Linked DNA regions of Homo sapiens. The protein of the gene in region 3 interacts with the protein of the main gene of each other region in a pairwise test. Each region holds a gene or a part of one and is shown on either strand. Other genes may lie near its edges. The genes, in order: ZNF460, GRIP1, FGF12 and TCOF1.

The links.
Region 1: the proteins of FGF12 (region 3) and ZNF460 interact in binary tests that used the Homo sapiens proteins (3 or more experiments, as listed by UniProt).
Region 2: the proteins of FGF12 (region 3) and GRIP1 interact in binary tests that used the Homo sapiens proteins (3 or more experiments, as listed by UniProt).
Region 4: the proteins of FGF12 (region 3) and TCOF1 interact in binary tests that used the Homo sapiens proteins (3 or more experiments, as listed by UniProt).

The regions. Positions count from the first base shown.
Region 1 is NC_000019.10:57,290,460-57,294,589, reverse strand, and holds the end of ZNF460 (zinc finger protein 460), read right to left. Parts: intron 3,892-4,130; coding exon 2,360-3,891; 3' UTR 521-2,359; downstream 1-520. UniProt on the Homo sapiens protein: May be involved in transcriptional regulation.
Region 2 is NC_000012.12:66,389,032-66,396,076, forward strand, and holds part of GRIP1 (glutamate receptor-interacting protein 1), read right to left. Parts: intron 5,322-7,045; coding exon 5,177-5,321; intron 3,786-5,176; coding exon 3,646-3,785; intron 3,472-3,645; coding exon 3,277-3,471; intron 1-3,276. UniProt on the Homo sapiens protein: May play a role as a localized scaffold for the assembly of a multiprotein signaling complex and as mediator of the trafficking of its binding partners at specific subcellular location in neurons.
Region 3 is NC_000003.12:192,138,890-192,143,586, forward strand, and holds the end of FGF12 (fibroblast growth factor 12), read right to left. Parts: 3' UTR 501-4,697; downstream 1-500. UniProt on the Homo sapiens protein: Involved in nervous system development and function. Involved in the positive regulation of voltage-gated sodium channel activity. Promotes neuronal excitability by elevating the voltage dependence of neuronal sodium channel SCN8A fast inactivation.
Region 4 is NC_000005.10:150,353,703-150,360,702, reverse strand, and holds the start of TCOF1 (treacle protein), read right to left. Parts: upstream 3,007-7,000; 5' UTR 2,957-3,006; coding exon 2,849-2,956; intron 1-2,848.

The DNA.
Region 1 (4,130 bases), on a different chromosome or scaffold from region 3:
ATAAAAAATCTGATTTTAAAATGGGTAAATAAGGTGAATAGACATCCCTCAAAAGGAGACATACAAATGGCCAAGTATATGAAAAAATGCTCAACATCACTAATCAGGGAAATGCAAATCAAAACCACAATGAGATATAATTTCACCTCAGTTAGGATGGCTATTACCAAAGATAAAAAATAAAAAATGCTGCTGAGAACATGGAAAAGGGGGAACTCTTATATATGGCTGGTAGGAATGCTAATTAGTATAGCCATATGGAAAACAGTATGAATGTTCCTCAAAAATCTAAAACTATAGCCAGGCACGGTGGTGTGTGCCTGTAGTCCCAGCTACTCAGGAGGCTGAGGTGCAGGACTGCTTGAGCCCAGGAGTCTGAGACCAGCCTGAATAACACAGCAAGACCCCATTTTAAAAAATGAAAAATAAACAAAAGTTAAAAATACAACTACCATATGATCCACTGGTAATGATCTATACCACTACTGGGCATATATGCAAAAACAAATATATCTATACGTCAAAGAGAGATCTACACTCCTATGTTTATTGAAGCACTATTCATAATAGCTAAGAAATCAGTCTAAGTGTCCATTATCAGATGAATGAAGAAAGAAAACATGGCATATATACACAATGGAATACTACTCAGCCATGAAAAATAAACCTGTCATTCACAGCAACATGAATGAGCTTGAAAGACATTAAGTGAAATAAGCTAGACACAGAAAGAGAAATACTCCATGTTTCTACTCATATGCAAGCATAAAAGGTTGAGAATGGTGGTAACCAGAGGCTGGGAAGGACAGCAGAGAGGCAGATAGAGATTGGTTAACAAATACAAAATTACAGCAAGTAAGATTCCATTTGAATAAGTTGTAGTGTTCTGTGGCACTGCAGAATGAGTACAATTGGCAATAATACATTTTATATTTTCAAATAGCTAGAAAAGCAGACTGTGAATGTTTCTAAACACAAAGAAATGATAAATGATTGAGATGGATATGCTAATTACCCTGATTTGATCATTACTCTTAGCACACATGTATTGAAATATCACACCAAACCCCATAAACATTGTCAATTAAAAACAATAAAAGAAACAAAAAGAATACCAAAAGAGAAATTCCAAAATATTCTGATTAAACATATTAATTACTACGACTGGACTCAATCCATGGTGACAACTACCTGCATATACATATGCAGGTTCACCTGTTAAAATTCCAGTCACTTTATGTATAGTCAGCCTTCACACAATCTTCTGTAAGACTGAAAAATGAGATTCCTTCTCTGTGTTTATTTTCTGAGTTTATCATAATCTTTTAACTTACTTTAGCTACATGTCTTATTTCATTTTTGGTTCCAAATTGACCTCTAGAAAATTGTTGAGGTGAATTTTGAACTATTTACTCTCTCTAAAGAGCAGTAAAAAAGCTGAGAAACCACAATCAGAGGGAAGAATTAGGACTCCCTGGATTACATTATGTACAAACAGCTACAATATCATCTCCATCCTACAGAAAAATAAAGAAGAAATTGACAAGTAGATCCAGATCAAGAAAAAAGTATGGTACTGGGTGGTTAAAGACACACGGAGAAACAATTTTTTTAAAAAAGTCAAAGCGTCTGAAGTGTGCAGTAAAATGTGCCCATTCATATGTACATCCTTTATCTCCTTAAATGTAAAAGTATTTCATAACTCAAGCCTCCATCTTTCTCATAAAGATATATGCTTCTGCTCCTCAAGAGTGGAGACAATGCTGTGGAACAAAGCAGGCTTTCACAAAATGTTTTCAAACAAACCGTTTGTCTACAGCACTGGACAGCAGTGAATGTATACACAGGGAAAATAAAGGGGATGAGGCCCTTTTGTTTCTGAAACATTTCCCTCTCCCAAATAAAATAAGGAGGGGATGACAAATTGCCATGGGCTTGTCAGGGAAGTCTGAAAGAAGCTGTGCTTCCATTTCTTTCTCTTCCCTATGACTCCTCCTCCTTTGTTTGAATGTCCCTGAGATAACATTTCACTGTAAACTAATAAGAAAGATGTGGCTGAAGGTTTTCCTAAGTGCACAGTAACCACTGGGTCTCTTTCATGGGTGAATTATCAGATGTAGAATAAGACTCTTGGCTGTGTCAATTTCTAACATAATTGTTTAGATGACAAATGATGATCTAAAACAGGTTTTCCCACAGAGATGATACTTATGGAGTTTCTCTTCAGTATGAATGACCAGATGGTAAGATGTTTCCTCTCACCACAGATTTTCTTCAGTGGTTATATTAAAAAACTATTTCGCTAATAGGAATTCTTGGATGTTGACTGAAGTGTACGTAAAAAGTCTTTCCACATCTGTTACAATGGTAGGGTTTCTTCCACTATGAATCCGTTGATGTCGAGTGAGGAGGAATGAGCGGCAATTGAAGGCGTTTCCATATTCACTGCACTCACTGGGCTACTCTCAGTGTGGATGATGGAGTGTTGAATGAGATCTGTGCTCTCACAAGAAACGTTCCCACTCTGGATGGGTTCGTGGGACTTCTCTGCAGTGTGAATCCGCTGGTGCCTTGTGAGGGGTGACCTGCGGTTGAAGGCCTTCCCGCACTCCACGCATTCATAGGGCTTCTCTCCAGTGTGGATGCTAAAGTGTCGAATCAGGTTTGTGGTCCGACAAAAGGCTTTCCCACATTGGATGCATACATACGGCTTCTCTCCAGTATGAATCCACTGGTGCCTTGTGAGCCCTGACATGCGGGTAAAAGCCTTTCCACACTGTAAACACTCATAGGGCTTCTCTCCAGTGTGGATGTTGAAGTGTCGAATGAGGTCTTTTCGAATGCTAAAGGCTTTCCCACATTCTTTGCACTCAAAAGGCTTTTCTCCAGTGTGGGCTCTTTCATGCAGGACATAGGTGGAATAGTGAGTGAAGGCCTTTCCACATTGACTGCACACAAAGGGCTTCTCACCAGTGTGAATCCGCTCATGCTGCTTGAGGTGTGACCTGCAGTTGAAGGCCTTCCCACACTCAAGGCACTTAAAGGGCCTCTCCCCAGTATGGATAATGAAGTGTTGAATGAGGGCTGTACTCTCATAAAAGCCTTTTCCACATTCGCTGCATGCGAAGGGTTTCTTCTCATTGTGGCTCTTGTTATGCAAGACAAAATTGGAGCGGTAGGTAAAGGCCTTTCCACATTCATTGCACACAAAAGGCTTCTCTCCACTGTGAACCCGCTGGTGCCGTGTAAGGTGCGACCCGCGATTGAAGGTCCTTCCACATTCACTGCACACAAAGGGCTTATCTCCATTGTGAGTCCGCTGGTGCCGTGTGAGGTGTGACCTGCGGTTGAAGTCTTTCCCACACTCCAGGCATTTATAGGGCTTCTCCCCAGTATGGATGATGTGATGCTGAAGGAGGTGTTTGCTCTTGCCGAAGGCTTTCCCACATTCTGGGCAATCATAGGGCTTCACACGAGGGAGAATCTGCTCATGCTGAACAAGGAAGCAATTCTCATTAAACATTTCCTCGAATTTATAGGAATTTTCCCCTTCATGAATCAAGGAATCTGTAACTGGTCCATATGAGTCAAATCCATAGAGAGCATCTTCTGGTGAGACTTGGTTCTGTATCATCATTGAACAAATACCATCAGCTGTCGCCAAACCTTCGTGTTCAAGGCTCATTTTCCCATGGAGTTTCTCACTCTGTGGGTCTGTCCCTGGTCTCAAAAAGTATTCCTGCATTTCAGATGGCCCATCTTGATCCATGGCCTGCCCCAAATAGGAGTATCTTGGGACTCCCTGTGCCAGCTGTTCCTGGAGTGAGACTTCCTCAGGCAAGGCCAGATGAGAAGGGATAGGCTCTACGGTCTCAGGTTTTGTGCTGTCACCTGAAGGGAACACAATACACAAAAGAACTTATTAAGATAGTACAGAAGAAATGAAACCACCTTTTTGGTGAGAACAATAAGATGAAAATAGTGATGATTTGAAAATAGCTATGATTTGATGGGCTGGGTACAGTGGCTCATCCCTGTAATCCCAGCACTTTGGGAGGCCAAGGCAGGCGGATCACTTGAGGTCAGGAGTTTGAGACCAGCCTGGCCAACATGGTGAAACCCCATATCTA
Region 2 (7,045 bases), on a different chromosome or scaffold from region 3:
GTGCATTATGGAGTCTCCTGGGAACAAGGCAACTATTACAGCCTTAAAGGGAACAGAGAGAATGTGCAGGGGCTTCCTGGAACAAGGCAGAGAGCCTGCTGAGAGGCTGGAGGGACAGGTTGGAGAGATAAGCTGTATCTCACAACATAATATTGAATAGGAAAAATAAAAGTGTGGTTCTATGCCTTGCTTTTATTTTTGTTTTAATTTTTTTTGAGACGTAGTCTTGTTCTATTGCCCAGGCTGGAGTGCAGTGGCATGATCTTGGCTCACTGCAATCTCCGCCTCCTGGTTCAAGCGATTCTCCTGCCTCAGCCTCCCGAGTAGCTGGGATTACAGGTGTGTGCCACCACGCCTGGCTAGTTTTTGTATTTTTAGTAGAGATGGGGTTTCGCCACGTTGCTCAGGCTGGTCTTGAACTCCTGACCTCAGGTGATTTGCCCACCTCAGCCTCCCAAAGTGCTGGGAATATAGGCCTGAGCCACTGCACCCAGCTGTGCCTTGCTTTTAAAAAGTCAACCTCACAAGCACAATCTGGAGAGATGCAGTTTAACTGAATATCACGGGTAAAGAAAAAAAAACACATTCACAAGACTTTGAGATCTCGGTAAACTGTAAGCGCAAAATGAGTGACAGATGTGCCATGACCACTAAAATTCTTATGTTGAGGTAGGTGTCATTGATCAGTTCTCCTGTCTTCAATGATGCCAGTGACCAGCTTGCTTTGCTCCGGGCTGTCGGGCTGTTGTGTGATTTTCCTTTCTGAATGTTACACTTTAACGGGTACACAGGTAAACTGAAGCACATTCGTAAGGGAGGTCCACAGGACGATACAGATACTCGTCAGTAAATTATAGAAGACACAGTTAAAGGAACTGGGGCTATTTTGCTTGGAGAAGGAAAGCCTCAACAGAGACCCAATAGCTGTCTTCGAGTATCTAAGGGGCTGTCAGGAGAAGAGGCTTTAGTCTAGTGCAGAATGACCTTGAGGGTATAGCCGGGACTATTAGGCATACTGCAGCTCAATACAAGTGAGAGCTTTAGAGTCATCAGAGCTACGTGGAGATGGGGGGCTGCCTCAGCACAAGGAACAACCTGTCACCTTGGGCATTCAAGTCCATGCAGCGTGTCTTGGCGTGCAGTGAGGCAGGACCTGGCACCAAGGGCTGCACTGGACATCAGACTAGCTGACTCCTAAACCCTTTCCAAACCTGAAATCCTGCCTTCAGCTCCCATGTTCGTCACAAGAATTAATGGGGATTAGTTATGTGAAAGTGCTTTGTAAACTCTAGAGTGTTCTATATATATAAAGGGTTATTACTATTTTTTCATTACCTTGGAGTACTTCGATTCTATCCTGATTGCCATTGTCTCTACTTATCCCTCAGTTCCCTTCAACCTCATAAAAATGTCTAAATTATAAATGCAAAATGTAATATTATGACTATGATTCAAAATTTCAAAATGCTTCACAAATAGTAAATGGTTTTTCATCTTTTACTAGTGAGGGGCAGGTCCTATATTCAGTTTGCTTCTCATGGTCCTGTGTCTGTGGTTTCAAGGGATGGAGTAGCTAAGGTCTTACAGATCACCTTACAGGGAAGAACTAATTAATATCAATAGCACCCTCACAAAAATCTCTGGTAACAAAAATATCTCTACATTAATAAGCAATACACAAAAAATACACAAATAAATAACCAATACACAATAAATTGATAAATAAACCTGAGTCTACTCTGATAGAATGTGACTTCTGTCCTTTACTCAGTGTCTTCTGGTGGCCCATCAATTCTCAGGCAATCAGAAGGTCTGTTATTTGGTGGCATAGGTGAACTTGTCACAAGGTATTATGACTTGGAAAAATTAATTGCCAGATAAAGCCCCAATTCTACTTAGGTGTTCAAAGTATTTTCCCCACCTAACTCCAGTATCATCTCTAATGAAAGTAACAACTTGACAACTTTGAAATATCATCTCCTTTCATTTTTTTTTCCAGTTTTTTCTCCCTTCCATTTTTGTTTTTTGTTCACCAGAGGACTTAACAGAGAGTGACACAACATAGGCAGGCTGAGAGAAGGAAACTAGGAAAACCAGGAGAGAGCAAACTGGATACAGACACTCCTAAAAAGTACAGTTAACTCAGTGACAAAGCAGCCCTCACACCAATGTGTTCTCTAAACTGTTTATGTGTTTTATTATTTGACTGACTGAAACCCAGAGCAAACAAGGGATTCAGAGGCTGGAATTTACATAGAACATGAGAGAAGGTAAGGCTCAGATGAGGAGAAATACCAAGAAGTTTTGACATACTTCTCTTGTTGATGCTACGGATCACTGGGAAGAAAATATTTTTTAAAAGAAGCTATTAGTTTATGCTCTGTATTCAGTCTGACACCTTTTATGTGTTTATATTCCATGAGTGAGGCTTTTTAATGTAGATAGTATTTCTTCACATGACGATGACACCTATGAAGAAAAATCTACTCTATACTTTCCTATATTGTGATTATAGTGCTCTAATTATAAACATTCAGGGAAAGGGCATGGTGGCTCATGCCTATTATCCTAGCACTTTGGGAGGCCAAGATGGGAGGATTGCTGGAGGCCAGAAGTTTGATACCAGCCTGGAGAACATGACAAGACCCCGTATCTACAAAAATTTAAAAATCAGCTGGGTGTGGTGGTGTGTGCACATAGTCTCAGCTACTGAGGAGACTGAGGCAGCAAGATCCCTTGAGTCCAGGAGTTTGAGACTATAATGAACTATGATGGTGCCAGGGTATTCTAGCTGGGGTGACAGAGTGAGACCCAGTCTCTAAAAGAAAAAAAAAAGTCAGGAGTGTGCAGGAATAAATAGAGTCACAAATCATTGGCTAATCTCTTATGCACCTCTTCCAAACTCCCCAATCCATCTTTGTGGAAAGCTTGCTGAAAAATAAGGCAATGGGGCCTGTATTGAACGAGCCACTTTATTGTATGGTTTGCCTCACATTAATCTAAGCTTGAAGGACAAGCCCTGGATGGGATACTTGGCCATCAGTAGACCTAATGGAGGCCTGTTAGTGTTTGGTAAAGGTTCATGCCTTATAAGCACTAGAAGAAAATGCATGGCCAGCAGAGTGTAAGTATTCAATGTGTTCAATATGATTATGGCTGCACCAAAGCAGACACAAGTTAAAGAAAGATATTCTCCTCATGGAGCAGAGGATGAATCTTGGAGAAGCATGGGCTTCAACAATGACAAGTCCTCTGGGGGACAAAGTAAAGACATACCTTGAGTTCCATAGCTGGTGTCTATTGCAGACCCATCCCATGAATCCACAGCACTGTCCACACTGGGCACCGTGGAGGGGTACATGTCGGAGAGCTTGCCTGGCTTCTGTGCTGGTGAGGAGTCCTCCTCCACATCCCCCAGGTCACTCAAATGGCTAGAAATAGGGAACTTCTTGGGGCTCGATGCTGACTGGGCTTTATAGACAGGAAAGGAGTTTAAGTATCAGAGTAAATTTAAATAAAAATATACCAAGATACTCCGTGGCTAGAGATTTGTTTCCCTAGAATTACACACAGACACTAGCACATTCTTTCAAGGAAGAAAATGCACTGGAAATCCTTAATTGTGGCTTTCAATTCACTACTCACCATCTGTCTGTTTCTTAATTTTCAAGGTGACAGTCTCTCCTGCCATCTGTAACAAATGGATGGCTTCACTCAGAGGCTTCCCTTTCAAGCTGCTGCTATTGATGGCTAGGATTCGGTCTCCTATGTGGATTGCGCCAGTTCTGAAAAGCCAAATAGTAATAGGAGAGGTAGAAATAATCCCTGTATGGTACTGAATATAAATTCCCTGACATACCTTATACATTCATCATAATAAAGACTTGGTAAGGATCTCCAGAAGTCCCTTCTTGCTTTCTCCTGGGCAATGTTATAAGATAACTGCATCTGTTGTGGATTACTTTTTAGTTTCCAATAAAATTTTAAAAATTGTTTTAATTAGTTATTAAAATGAACTGTGTTTTTTAATTCCAAGAAAGCTGAGTCATTGGTTAAGCACCCTAAAAATCCCAAGAAAATGAACAATGTTGAATGACAAATGTAGTGGATAGCATGGAGCATCCTTTCTTTCTACAGATTTTTTTTTTTTTTTTTTTTTTTTTTTGAGACAGAGCCTCACTGTGTCACCCAGGCTGGAGTCCAGTGGCACGATCTTGGCTCACTGCAACCTCCGCATCCCGGGTTCAAGCAATTCTCCAGCCTCAGCCTCCCAAGTAGCTGGGATTACAGGCAAGCACCACCATCCCCAGCTAATTTTTCTATTTTTAGTAGAGATGAGGTTTCCCCATTGGCCAGGCTGGTCTTGAACTGACCTCGTGATCCATCTACCTCGGCCTCCCAAAGTTCTGGGATTACAGGTGTGAGCCACCGCACCTGGCCTGTATGAGCTAATTTCTAAGGTACACTGCAGCTCCAACATTTTGCAATGCTGTGTCTCTATTTTGCTAGCCACTGTTTTCAACTGTTAGCAGGAACAATGCATTTGTGTATTCCTGAGCTAGGTTACTGGAGGGCAGATTTGCTTATAGGGTTTGTTATATGTCCAACAACACATCTCAGAAAGAAATGCAGTTTAGCGGAGGGTGGGGAGTGGGTGTGTGTGTACATCATTGCCAAAGGAAAAAATGGACATTCCAGCTTTTAAGACATTATTAAAATGGGTTATACACTTTGTTTCCCATAATCCTTGAAGATGATGTCTGTATCATCCTTTTCTGAAAACACAGCAGCTAAGTGTGGCACCTGTCAGGTAACAGAGGCTCAGCAAGTGTTTGCTGAATGAAATTGGACAAGCTGTTCAACCTCCCTGAACTTTAGTTTCCTCCTCTCAAAATGGACACAATACAAATCCGCCTTCAGTCAATTGTGGTCAGCTTATACATTTCAGAGAGTAGTATCAATGCTAAGCCCAAGACGTCTTTTACTGCCTGTAAGATGCCCCTCAGAGTCAAGTCGGAACTCTGCCTGAGAGTTCTCAGGCTCTAAGATCAATCCTTTGTGCAGATTTTTAAAAGCCAACAGATAACCACAGAGAGAGGAGCATGTTTTTATGTGGTTGTGAGGAAGGAAGCCCGTCTCAGACACAGGTAATTATAACAGTTACTTCAAATTTTACCTTTCAGCTAATCCCCCTTTAGTGAGGCTTGAAATGATTATAGGATCAAACGGCTCTTCAGTTCCTGAAATTGTGATGCCAAGGGGCCCCCCGTAGCGTTTAAGCTCCACGGTGTAAATAATTGCTCCGGAACTTTCTTGCTCATCTGTAATAAATGCCAAGGAATCATAATTGATTTCTTTGGAAAAAGCAAAAGAGTAAGATGCATAGATTCATACATAAAAGAATTCAAAACATCCTCGTCAAAGTATCATGTCACAGAAAATAATTATTTTGGGAAGTAGCATTTCCTTAGTAGGATCTTACATTCAAATACAGGGATATAATCATTGTCAGTGCCAGGGGAGAGGAACACTGCCTAATGACTTATGTTTTAAATGTGTGAGATCCGCCCAGCTGGGGCTGCAGGACCTTTCAACTGTGTCCATGTCTAGGACAGTGCTTACCTAGCATTTAGTAAGTATGCAGTAAATATCTGTGAAATAAACATATGGCTGAGGAGGCATTATAATATGAGAGGAGAGAGTCACTCAGTAACAAAGAAGACAGACATTGGGTCACGCTGTTTCCGTTTTAAGCTTTACATGCATGCTAACTTTTGATATAGAAAAGTGGATTTTGCGAAGGGTTGGAACAAATAACATATATATGGTTAAGTGGAACTTAGATAAGTAAACTTGAAGACAACAGCAAGAAATCTAGAATCTCTTAGATATCATTCCACTGACTGTCTTCTAATGTGAGTCCTATCAGTGAATTACGGATATTAAAGTGGAGGTTTGAATGATCATCTCTCCTCTTTCAATGGAGTAACAGCTGTTGTAAGCTATGTTTCAACAGCATAGACCAGCCTGCCACACTGTCATAAACTAATTTTGGCTATTCAACATTATTATAGTTGAAGACACTTGTGAATGTGCTCTGCCTAAAGCACTGGCCAGAAAGATATCATGGGCCGCCTTCAACGTGATGGGTATTGTGATGGTGTCAGAGTTGCAAATAAGAAGTCTCAGAATTCAAAGGTTTTATTTGCTTCTGACATGCTTAAAGTTCTTGGGCACTTCTTGTTTTATTCCTTGGGCCTGGGAGCTGTGAATGGTTAAGGAACTGTTTCATTTCTGCAACTAAGGATAAAATGAAATGGTTCAGTGGCTACTTTAGCAAAATAGTCAGCTTTTACAGTCAGACTACATCCTAGTGAAGCATTAACATGGCCACATTTTTGCAGTGAGCAGCTGTTCGTTTACGATATGAAATCCTAAAATAAGGAGGAAAACCAAAGCTTGAGTTAACAATTCAATTATTTGTGTTTGCAGTGAAGAATTATGATGAATATAAAATGAAAGGTCTATCAAGTCATTTGGGAAGCAATGTGTCCTCTCTCGCCAGCACTTACTTCACTTCTGGCCATAGATTGGGAGTTTTGAATGCAGCCATTACCTCCACTTTCTGAGTGCTCTACTCAACGTATTTACTCCACACATTCAGAACTAAAGACCATCCACCACACACTGCAATGCTTAAGTCAACATTTTAGGGCACAAAATCTTCAACATTGGGCTCAAATTTACATTAGCAGCTGAGAAGCTCCCATATCAAGCCTAAAACAGCTCTGTTTGCTGGTTCACAAGTTTCTTCTGGGCTGATGCTGAAGTTGTGGCCAATAGGCTGGTGATGATCTGCTAAGGGCTCCAGAGAGAAACATCAAGATAGAGGGTAACCAAATAATCAGCAGAGGTCAAAAGTCTAAATTTTCCTACAGTACGATATTTTGTCACCTTTCAGAGCTGGCTTTGACCTAAATGAACAGAGTACTATTGGATAGATTACATGTACTTTGCAGCCCTCATCATCAACAATATCCTGGAT
Region 3 (4,697 bases):
TGCATTTATCATAGCACATACTTTTAGGTATTGCATTATTTATTTATGTGTCTGCCTTTGTTGTTGTTGTTTTGAGATTGCAATTCAGTGTATGATGCCTAAACTCAACTGAGCCTCTAGTTGGTATGTTATGAATAAAAGAATAAATGAACGTACTTTAGTTCTTAATCCTTGAAAGCAAGATGTCAGGTTGAGACAAGTAGCTACGTAATTACAAAGAAACATTTACTTTTCTTTCAACTCTTCTACAAAATTAGACATCTTTCCCATCTGTAAATCAATTTTTGATCTTTTTCTTAAAAAGACACAGCGCTTTTTCAGCAATATAGGATAAACACACTAAAAAAAAAAAGGTAGACTTCTCAAAGAAGTTTAATGTTTAAAAAAAAGTGCCAGTATTTCGTCTACGTGCATGAGCATCTCAGGATTTTAATTGTTTTTAATTCCAGGAGGGTAATGATGTATAAACGTTTTACAAATCTGAGCTCAGAAAACAATGATTTGAATAATCTGTGCTTTAATGGAAAAATGAAACATTAATTTGTTTAGTTTCTCATACAACATGTTTACTAAACATTTCAGTGTCAATAATTTCTTAAGATTGTAACATTTAACCTTGTATTGGAGCTAATACCAATTCTAGCCATGGGAGTATGTTTTGGACTTTTTGAACAATTTTAAGTAAAATGAATGTCACTGTCTTTAAATTGTACTTGGAGCAAAGACAAAGAAACATCAGCTCATTCTTTCCAACTAATAGAACATTTAATGATGCAATTTTTATTACATTATTTTAAGGCTATTATCATAATGTTAAATATTCTTATTTTTTTTTGCTTCCGTCTGTTACTAAAGCTCAATACATCATTCTGAACATTATTAATTTTCACTTAACTTAGATTTAAGTATTGAATTTTTAACTTGGGCTCCAGGAAAAATCCTGAAAAAGAAAGATCAGCATCTAGCATCCTTTTCCTATTCTTTCACCACAAATTCTCAATTTGATATGACTTAACATGAAATCTGTATTGGGAAGTATAGATTTCTAAGATAACTTTTTGTAACTAAAAAATAATTTCCTGTGCATCACAAGGGGGATTAAAAATCACCAAAGTACTGAAGGAACACGTGCTTTGATTATTATTCCCACCTGTTTCTTTTTTATTATAAAGTGGCAATTTGTACCATCATTAGAAATGTACATTAATGTATAAAGTTTTGCATTCAAATCTCTTTATTTTTGATTACCTATGACTAAAGACCACAAATCAAATAAAAACTCATATAATATATCCTTATTTCAGAAGCATATGTATATATACACATATATATTTGTAGAACAATCCACTGTTTTAAATGTAATTTTGACTTAAAAAATGCTATTTACAATTTTATGACAGAGAAATAACCTCAGCCTTTTATGGTATTAAAATGAGCAGGGAATTTTTATGTTTGTGTCTCATCTTGTGCAGATGAAATTAAGCAATATCATGGAAAACCTTCTCAAGAGCAAGGCCTTGTAGACTAAGGTATGAGGGTGAAATCGATTTGCTATTTCTGGGTCTATGTTTTTAAAAAATTACTGGCAACGTAGTCATACTTACTTCTTCACCAAGAAATCAGTGCTCCCAAATTAGGAATTCCAAACTTTTCAATATGCAACCTTTAAGTCTTTCCTTGTCCTTACTCTTGTCTTAATACTCTCATCTCCCACTAGTGGCACCGCAGGACTACCAATCTAGATATTAGATTGTTGCTATTTTATTAAACAGAAGAGTCTTAGTTCTTTTAAACAAGCTTTCTGAATTAGAATGAGGCCCATAAAGCATCACATTGCATTACATTGATATCTCTTTATTGCGCCAATCCATAATGGCTAAAAATGTGCTATTAAATTGTATGTAAATTTCAAAGCCAAAACGATTACTATGAGAATAGGATGGCTTGCTGCCCTCCAATTTGCGGAAGCACAAAAGTCTCTGAATTAGCAAATGGAACTTCAGCTCCATTTGTTTCTATACTTTATTCTGCGAGCTTAAAAATCAAGTAAGGTGTATTGACCAGAAAGCTATTTTGTGAGACTCTCAAAAGTTTTGTTTTCATTCTTAAGCTCGTTGATTTTGAAACTTATTCCAATAAGAACTCAGAATAAACATATCTTAATTTATATCTGCGTAGCCAATTGCAAAGCATTACTAAAAGCCATATTTTTTCCTGGGAAAAATCCCAATGCAACTCCAAAAAAAAAAAAAAAAAAAAAAAAAAGCTTATTTTACTTAAAAAGGAAAAGTGACGAATGAATTGAAGACCCAGAAATCAGAACAATGAAAATCAAAGAATTATTATACTTGAAATAAGCCTGAAAAACAAAGTACTTAAACTCAACCATATTTTTGGATGAAGTTGGATATTATATGTTTACACATGGTAATATTTTTAAAAACTCAGTGAATACTGGCATATTCTATTAAAGTTTTCATGTACTTGAGAAGTAAGCAGGAGTTAAGCAAACATTCACCCTTTGCTCTAAGCTACATTTTTTGTCAGGTTTATGTGTAAAAGAAATCAGGTTTCCAATTAATTCTCTGAACTAAACTGGAAATAAGACAAAGCTAATTTCCAAAACATTTTACTGCAGTGAACATTTGCTTAACATAATACGGAGAAAAACAATATACAAATTGTGTGGTTAGAATTTTTTCTTAACTGCTATCAGGAAGGAGACAAATGTGAGTCTAGATGATAAATGATGAATAGCCACTGAAAATGGAGGAATTTTGTTAGTGATTCATATCTCTATTTTTTTCATAACAAACTTAATTAAATATATTTTGTCATGAAATCATAATTGTAATTGATTTTTATGATTTGCATCAATTGTGTTATTTATGAAACCATCGTTTTACTGATGAGTGTGTATGTGTATCATCACTACAAAAGCTCAAGTCATTTCATGCTAAAAGAGCCAGTGTCCCATAGTGTTGAAGTTTCTTTTTTATTTTTTTCAAATAAAATAAGCTTTGTGCTTGGGATTTTTTTCTTTTTTTTTTTGGTTCTGGTAGTGACAGGTGTATTTATAATCAAGTTGAATCAAGAGTGACAAGAAGAAATACAGCTAGAGTTATATTTTTGCCCCAGGGGTATTCTTTTCCTAGAAGAGCAAGTCCATTTTTAGAAAATTTAAATGTCTTTATTTGTTACTTTCCAAATATTTTGGTTAAACAAATATCTCTTGCAAATGTATCTTCAAAATCTTTGCCTACATGCATACAATTTGTTCTTCCCAACTGCTTAGGGAAATTCCTTCATTTCATTTTCTGCTAACCTCTAGATAACAGAAATAGGATACCTGGTGAAGGATATGGTCCACTATTGAAGAATAATGATTGTGTAAAGTGAGGGAAACTATATTGACCTTGAAATACGGCAACCAATGGCAAGGTTTGAGGTGAGGGCCTAGAGCTTCTGCAAAGTGTATATATTTTAGGGAGTCATATTTGGAACAATACATGCTGGACAGTAGAGATATAGGAGAAGTTACATGCTATGTCTTCTCATTGATAATATCCATAAATCTGCATACATTTTTTAACATTCTGTTTTGTGTTTTTTTTTCTTTAAATTTGGATGTCTCTACACCACTCCTGATTTGTAGGACTAAATAGATCTATTTATTCCAATGCAAATTGTGTAACATTTATTTCTTCCTTGATTTTTAAAAATACTTTAGTATTCTTAACTATGTATGTGCCTTCTCTTACACTGAGTTCTTTTTTGCTCCTTTCAGCTGCTCACACAATCCTGTCTGTTGGAGTCATAGCTGCTAATTCCATATTATTTCTCTACACACCTTGAAAATTTAGTGTATTACTGGTACCCTTCTGTGTTCTAGGAAACAAATGAATTGCAAACTGGACTTGTAACAGGATCATACATAGAGCAACAAATTAGCTACTGGCTTTGTAAGATAGTAAGTTAGGAATTTCACAGTCATGTCTCCAAATTTCATGGCAGAGTTTAAAAAACAATATAAGACTGTGGTAAGGTACAAACGCAAATGCAATTTGCGTTGACTAATTTCCTAGGACTTATTTCCTTATGTAAAACCCCTGTTCTTTCTTTCCTGCCACAAGACAGGGTACAAAGCTTTCTAAAACATGCTCTCAGGTGTCCACACCTGAGACATTGCTTTGTGGATACTCTCAAAGGTGTCCACAAAGCAAAAAAATCAGACCAAATGCTAAGAGCAAGTAACTTATACCTCACCACCTGGACATGGCACTGGCAAAAGTCACTTCAGCATTAGAACAGTAATGTTTTTGCTAAATTACTAAAAAAAAAAAAAAAAGAAAGAAAGAAGAACTCCGGAAATAATATCTTTGATAAAAATGTTATACTCTAGGATAATTTGAAATCATTTTTGTGAAAGAATTAAACTCATTAAGGCTATTCGATGCCATACAAGATTTTCCTTTTACATAAAACAATCTTAAATTACATCTCAAAAATAATTTCTTACACTTTTCTTGATGATAAATGGTTCCTGGCTATATATTTTATAGGTATTAACATAGTTTATAATTTGGAAATGTTCAATTTCATGGTTACAAAAAAAATCCTGCAAACAGAATGTAATGGTGTGTCAATTCCAGATGCCCAAATAAAATACAAAATCAAGCAAAACCACACATCGCAGC
Region 4 (7,000 bases), on a different chromosome or scaffold from region 3:
GCTTGGCCCTGCCAGTTCTGTCCCAAACCTTCCAGAGACAAGAAGAACAACCAATCCCAACTAAAACCTTTTTAGACAACCCCTTTGAAAGGCCAGAGGTGGAATGTTCCAAGCTAGCATTCATCCAGCTCCCAGCCTCTCTGGCACTATCCATGCCTAGAGGCCATGAGACAGGGTTTTCCCCACCTTTGACCTTTAAAAAAGCTTTCAAAGACGTGGCCAGCCAATCTTCCCAAAGCACGAATCACAGCCCAGACACCTGAGGCATCCAGGTGGCATGACCACAGTCTACTAGTCTGCTGGGAGAAGACTGGGCCCAAATGGTACCAGTCCCTTGGTGGAAGCAGAGGGAACCAGGTGGAATCCAGGCCTTTGGAGCAGAGGCCAGAGGGCCCAATGTCTCTGTAAATGTCAATAAGCCAGGATATCAAGTACTCTAATGAGGCTAAGCAATGTGGGGCACGGGTGGACTGAACTAATCTCGTCACGTCTTCGAACTTCAGATTTCTTCTTAACATGGGGACAACAGCGATACCTACCTTGCAGGCTGCTATCTGGTTTGAACAAGACCATCTGTCAGTGCCCAGCAGTGAGCCGGTAACACTAAGATTTCAAGAGTCAGTTTCCCTCTGCTCCACCTCAGGCAAAGTGTCCTCCTTGCTGTCCTCAAATGTGTCAGGCCACCCTGCCTCTAACGCGGCCTTGCTATTCTTCTTGTCTGGAATGTTCTCTCCCCTGTTAACTACACAGCTCACTCCCTCATTTCCTTCAGGTCTCTGCCCAAATGACACCTTCTCAATGAGACTTCCTTGACTACCCTACTTATAATCGAAGTCTGACATCCCTTATCCCCCTTGCCTGCCTTTTATAGCAAGCACCAACTATCATTGGATATACTATATCATTAACTTATTAAACTTTTTCTATTTGTCACCTGTCTGCTCCTACTAGAATGTGTGCTCCATGACGGCAGGATATTTTGCTCCAATGAAGATGGGTACTATCTCTTGCTCCCCTTATCTGTGAAGTACCATAGCTGCGGTAGGAAGAGCAAGTGAGGTTCAGAGAAACTGGGAAAAGCATACATAACGTCTTAGGGCCCATCACCCTTTAGTCCCTCCAGGAGGTTCTGAGAGCAAGCATTAGGAGCAGAGCCTACACCACAGGGCAAAGGGATCTGACTACTTAGGATACTGTCTCACCAGTTCAAAACTCTCCATTGGTTTACCACTGCTCTTCCAAGGAAGATCAAACTGCCCACCAGACCACTCCAGCCAGCCCCTGCCTCCATCTCCCCAGGGGCATCTGGCCCTTGTACTTCACACTTCAGCCACTATGGACGTTTTTTTTTTTTTTGAGATGGAGTCTCGCCTTGTCACCCAGGATGGAGTGCAGTGGCTCAGTCTCAGCTCAGTGCAACCTCTGCCTCCTGGGTTCAAGTGATTCTCCTGACTCAGCCTCCCGAGTAACTGGGACTACAGGTGCATGCCACCATGCATGGCTAATTTTTGCATTTTTAGTAGAGACAGGGTTTCACCATGTCGGTCAGGCTGGTTTTGAACTCCTGGCCTCAAGTGATCCGCCTGCCTCGGCCTCCCAAAGTGCTGGGATTACAGGCGTGAGCTACCGTACCTGGCCTGCTATGGACTTAAAAAAAATTTTTTTTTGAGACAGTGTCTTGCTCTGTTGCCCAGGCTGGAGTGCAGTGGCATGATCATGGCTCATACTGTATCCTCAAATTCCTGGGCTCAAGAGAGTGGACTTTCTCCAGGCCAGTGTGTACACAAGTTCCCTCCCACCACAAGGCATTTACACCTCAGCTATTCCTGACCAGGGCAATCTGCCATCCATCTCTCTTTTTTTTTTGAGGCAGAGTCTCGCTTTATCGCCCAGGCTGGAGTGCAGTGGCACGATCTTGACTCATTGCAACCTCTGCCTCCCGGGTTCAAGCAATTCTTGTGCCTCAGCCACATGAGTAGCCAGGATTACAGGCGTGCGCCAACATGCCCAGCTAATTTTTGTATTTTTAGTAGAAACGGTGTTTCACCATGTTGGCCAGGCTGGTCTCGAACTTCTGACCTCAGGTGATCCGCTAGTCTCGGCCTCCCTAAGTGCTGGGATTACAGGCGTGAGCTACCGTGCCCGGCCCATCCCTCTCATTCTTAACACTTATTGCGGTGCTAAGCATATAGTCACTTTTGTGATTCTTTGATTTGTCTACCTTACTAGAGTGTAAGCTCCAGGAGGGCTGAGAGATGGTGCTCACCATTCGAACACCAGGAAGCACCCTGAGTACCGGATTAACAGTTGAATTAATCAAGTAAGAAATGACTGTACCACGAGTTCGAGTACCAAAGCTGACCGTCTCAGTACAGACAATCGCTAAAGGCCTGAGTTCCAGCTCAACTAAGAGGCTGTAGGGTCCCTTTTCCAGGCGCTCCCCCGAGGGGCTGGTCGCAATCCACCCCCGAGACTCGCAGCAACCTCCTTGCCCCAGGGGGGGCCGCGCAGAGCCTAGCCACGTGGCGGGAGACTTAGGAAACTTAAAATACCCGCTACCAGGAAGGGCGTGGAGGTAAGGGAAGCGGGAATTACAAAGTTCGGCCCCTGCGAGCACACTTTCTGGCCCAACCCACTGCCCGGATGAGGAAAGTGAGGCCCAGGGGAACTGAAGTCGCAGTGGGAAGGCAGAGATTGCGGCTCCTCCGGTACCCCTGGCCGCGCCGTCGAGCACTGCGGGACCCGGCTCCGGGCGCCTGCCGGGTCGCCTGGGGACGGGGCGCGGGCCGCGGGCCGCTGATCTCCACATCTTGCACGCGGCCCTCGCACACGGCCCACGAACGCTTACCTGGCCGCTCTGCTCCTTCACTTCCCGCGCCGCACGCACATAGCCAGCCCGCAGCAGATGGTGGTAGATCAGGGGAAGTAGCTCCCGCCGCTTCCTGGCCTCGGCCATACCCGCGACCCCCGGCCGGCCGGCTACCTGCACGCCCCGCCTTAGTCCCCGCCCGCCACTTCCCTCGCGCCCTTAGACCTCGCGCGCCACACTTCCGGCTCCTCTTTCGCTCCGGCCGCGCGGCGCGCCGGGAAACGTAGTCCCCTCTCCGGGAGTGGCCGGCCCCGCCCCTCAAGGCGAAGGGGGCGGAGACTCGTGATCAACAATACCGCCCATTGGCGCGGAGCATGCGGGGCTAGACAGGGACCCGCCCCCGGGGCCGGCCGGGACTTGGACGACTCTCTTTTAATCCTTCCGGCTGGCTTCTTGAAGAGATTTATCTTCCTTGTTAATTCTCTGATGGCTGGGTCTGCGTTTTACTCATCTCTGAACTCCCTAATCTGGATCTTTCTCTAGATCCGAACTTTGTACTGCCATTACCTGCTCATTTATCCATTTCGCACGGTTTTTGGTGCCCATGAACCAGACACGAATTGCCAGTTTATTCATTGATTCATTCGCTAACTGAACAAATCTGTAATAAGCACCTAACTTGGGCTAGCACCCGGCTAGGCTAGGGGGATTCAAAAGATGCATAATACATGGCAGTTGCCCTCAAAGCTCACAGAGACGACTGTCCGTAACCAAGCAACTATAGTTCAATATCTTGTGTGCCTTGTCAGGGACAGATGCAGCCTATGGGCGCCCCAAGGAGGAGCACCGAACCCCAGAGAGATATCTAAGCTGAGGCATAAAGACACCCGAAATTGCTGGGTGCAAAGGAGAGGACTGGCAGAGGGCACTGCATGAGTCTAGGCATGAGAAAACACCCTGCTATTGCCTGGGAACCCTAAACCCAGAACCCCTAGTCTGCGCTGCTGGGCTGTCCAGGTGGGGTGGGGTGAGGTGGGGAAGAGGGAACAAATGAGGGCACATGAGGATGAAGAAGTAGACAAGGCCTACAACTCCCCCACCCCCAACAGAGTTTGGACTTTGCTCTGAGGGCATTAGATAGTCTCTGACTGGCTTTTCCGAGGAGGTTGACCCTGTTTTGTGTTTTTAAAAGATTGCTAAAACCAAAGCACATACCATTAATACTAAATGTGAGGCTGTTGTAGTTGTTGAGGGAAGGATGGCAGGGAAAAGGTGAGGTAGGCTGGAGAATGTTAGAGTGAGCTGTTCTTAACTTCACCGACCCATTGAGAATCTGAGGGCAGCATGTTTCTTACGGGCGCAGGAGTCCCTAACCCTAGGAGGTCCAGGTATGTGGTTATCTTTGTCTTGAACTTGAATGGAAAATGTTATGTGTCTGTACACATTCAACATTTCCCATTTTCTTGAGCAAATATTTATTGAGTACCTACCATTGGGGATGGAATAGTCTCTACTCCTATAGAGCTTACAGTCTAGTGATGGAATTGTCTCTACTCCAATAGAGCTTACAGTCTAACGGAGGAGACACATACTAAACTAATAGTCATACAATACAGTGTTACAAACAGCGGGTAAGTGCAGGAAGGAAAAGGATAGTGTTTTCTTATGTAATAATATAGTGTTTAAAAGCTGCACTGGAGTCACACTGCCTGGGTTCAAATTCTGGCTTTGCCTCATTAACTAGGTGACTTTGGGCAAGTCACTGTGACTCAGTTTCTTTATCTGTACAATGGAGATAATTATAATTTCTACCTCACTGGGTTGTCATAAGGAGTAAATGAATTCTCAGCAGAAATGCTTAGAGGAGCTCTGAACAATAGCGCTCTCTGTGTGCGTGTGTGCTATTATTGTGAAAGCATATAACAGGAAGGAGGGATCTATTTTTTTCTTGGGAGTTAGGGAAGGATTCCCTGAGAAATTAATGGTTATGAGGAAACCAGAACTGTGTGTAAGGGAGAGTCAGAGAGAAGAAACCTGAGCAGAGGGAAGAACCTGTGCAAAGGGCCTAGGGCAGAAGGTACAGCTGAGAGAATAGACACAAAAAGGCCTTTGTAGCATAGTCCGGAGGGAGAGCAGGGGGACTGGGGAGTGTAGAAGGTGGGCAGAGGGCAGACTCCATGTGAAGGATTGGCCACATCAGGGTTTTTTTTCCTCCATCCTAAGAGCCATTGGAAGCCACTGACGGTGTAAGCCCAAGAGGTACAGGATGAAATCTGAATTTTACTGTGACCTGTGTGCCTGCCCAGTGGAGAGTGGAGTGTGTCTGGTGGGTATGAGTAGATGTGGGAAGACAAGTCAGGGTTAGGAGTGCAGGCAGGCATCCAGGGAGAAGACAGTGTATGTGGGGGGGGGGGGCGGGTGGTAGGTGGCGGGGGCAGCGGGGAGGGTGCTGGTGGCAGTGGAGTTGAAGAGAGTGGAAGGTTCCCAGAGTTAATCAGGAACTAAAGTTTTCACAGAGGTGTGTTGGAATGGGAGGGGAAGGAAAAGGCAATGTCAGAATGGACCTTGAGGTTTCTGTGCAAACAAGTAGGCAGTATTTTTCACTGAGATAGAAAAAACTAGAAGAGGACTGAGACAGGGGGGTGGTTTGATTGAGGAGAGGAGGATGTGGACAGAGAGGTGAAAGTATATATTCTATGTTAGACATCTTGAGCTTGAAATGCCTTACAGTCACCACATGCAGATGTTGAGAAGGTTCTTGGAAACCTGGGTTTGGACGTGGCGTGGAGGTCTGGGCTAGAGATGAAGATGAGAAGTTGTCGATAGACAGATGATAATTGCGGCTGTGGATGAGGAGAAGCTTACCCAGGGAGAAGAATGTGGAGAGAGAAGAGAGATGGCCCAGGATGAAGTTTTGAGGTACATCTACAGATTAGGGCTGTGTACAAAAGGATCTGCCTGCAAAGGCTGATCAGGAGTGGCTGGACAGCTTGGAGAAAGCCCAGGAGAGTGGGCTTATGGAAGGAGGCCAAGGGAGACATTTTAGAAAGCTGGGAAGACTTGATGGAGGGAATGCTCTGAGAGGTCAGATAGGAGGAGGGTGCAGCCCTGGGCTTTGGTTTATGGACAGGCGTGGAGATTGTTGGGGACTTAGGGAGGGCTATTTATGTGTGGCATGATGGAGGGGGTCAGATGGCAGTGGTCTGATGAGTGCAGGAGGGATGAGGGAGGCAGTGGGTCTTTCGAGAAGTTTTTGTATAAAAAGGACGAGAAAGATAAAGTGCTAGGGCCAATATGTATGTTAGGGGAGGTGTGTTTCAAGGTAGAAGAAACCTGAGATTTGTTTAAAAGTGAATGGCAGATCCAGGAGAGAGAGGTTAACCAAGAGTGTAAGAAATAGGGGAGATAATCAGCGAGTAAAGTTCTCTCAAGCATGTGCGAGGGGCTGGGATCAGGCATGTGGGTTGGGGGGGTTCGTCTTGGGGAGGAGGAGGGATGAGTTCTCTAGAACCCAAAAGCAGGAACAAAGAGAGGATGGGTGCAGATGTAGATGTAGGTTTATAGTGGGATGTTAAGGGAGATTTCATTTTGAGCTTCTATTTTTTCTGCAAAGTGGGAGGCAAGGTCTTCTGCTGAGAGTGAAGAAGAGGTGGTGAGGAGTTTGAAAGAATGATCATTCAGAGTGTTGAGAAGCAACTTGCCCACAAAATCCCCAATTGCCTGACAGCCTTGGCTCCCCAGTTGAGGTTGGTGGTCCTTAGTGTATGTGTGTCTCGTCCTGTCCTGCTGAGTGAATTCCTCCATCAGGGCTCACCTACCCAGCTGCAGGCTGGGGAGATGTATGTACATAGTGGGATTTATCCAGGCCTAGGGCTTTGCCAGATGGGTGGGGAAAAAAGGGCACAGGAGTCTAAAGTATTGGCAAAGAGATGCTAAAATTCTGGGTCCTGGGATCTACACTGGGTAGCGAGGGAAGCAAGGCAGATGGATGTTTGCAGGGAGAGAGTGGAATCCTTCACGGGCCAGGCCTTATGAGGGACCCCTGAGATCAGAGAGGGCTGGGAGCTGGAACTGGTGGTGACACCCAGGTTTCTGCTTGGGTGGCTGGATGGGTGATGAATGTACATGATGAGCATACAAACCATTGTAAGATCTAAGATTTTTTTCCACCAACACCTCCAGGAACCAGTT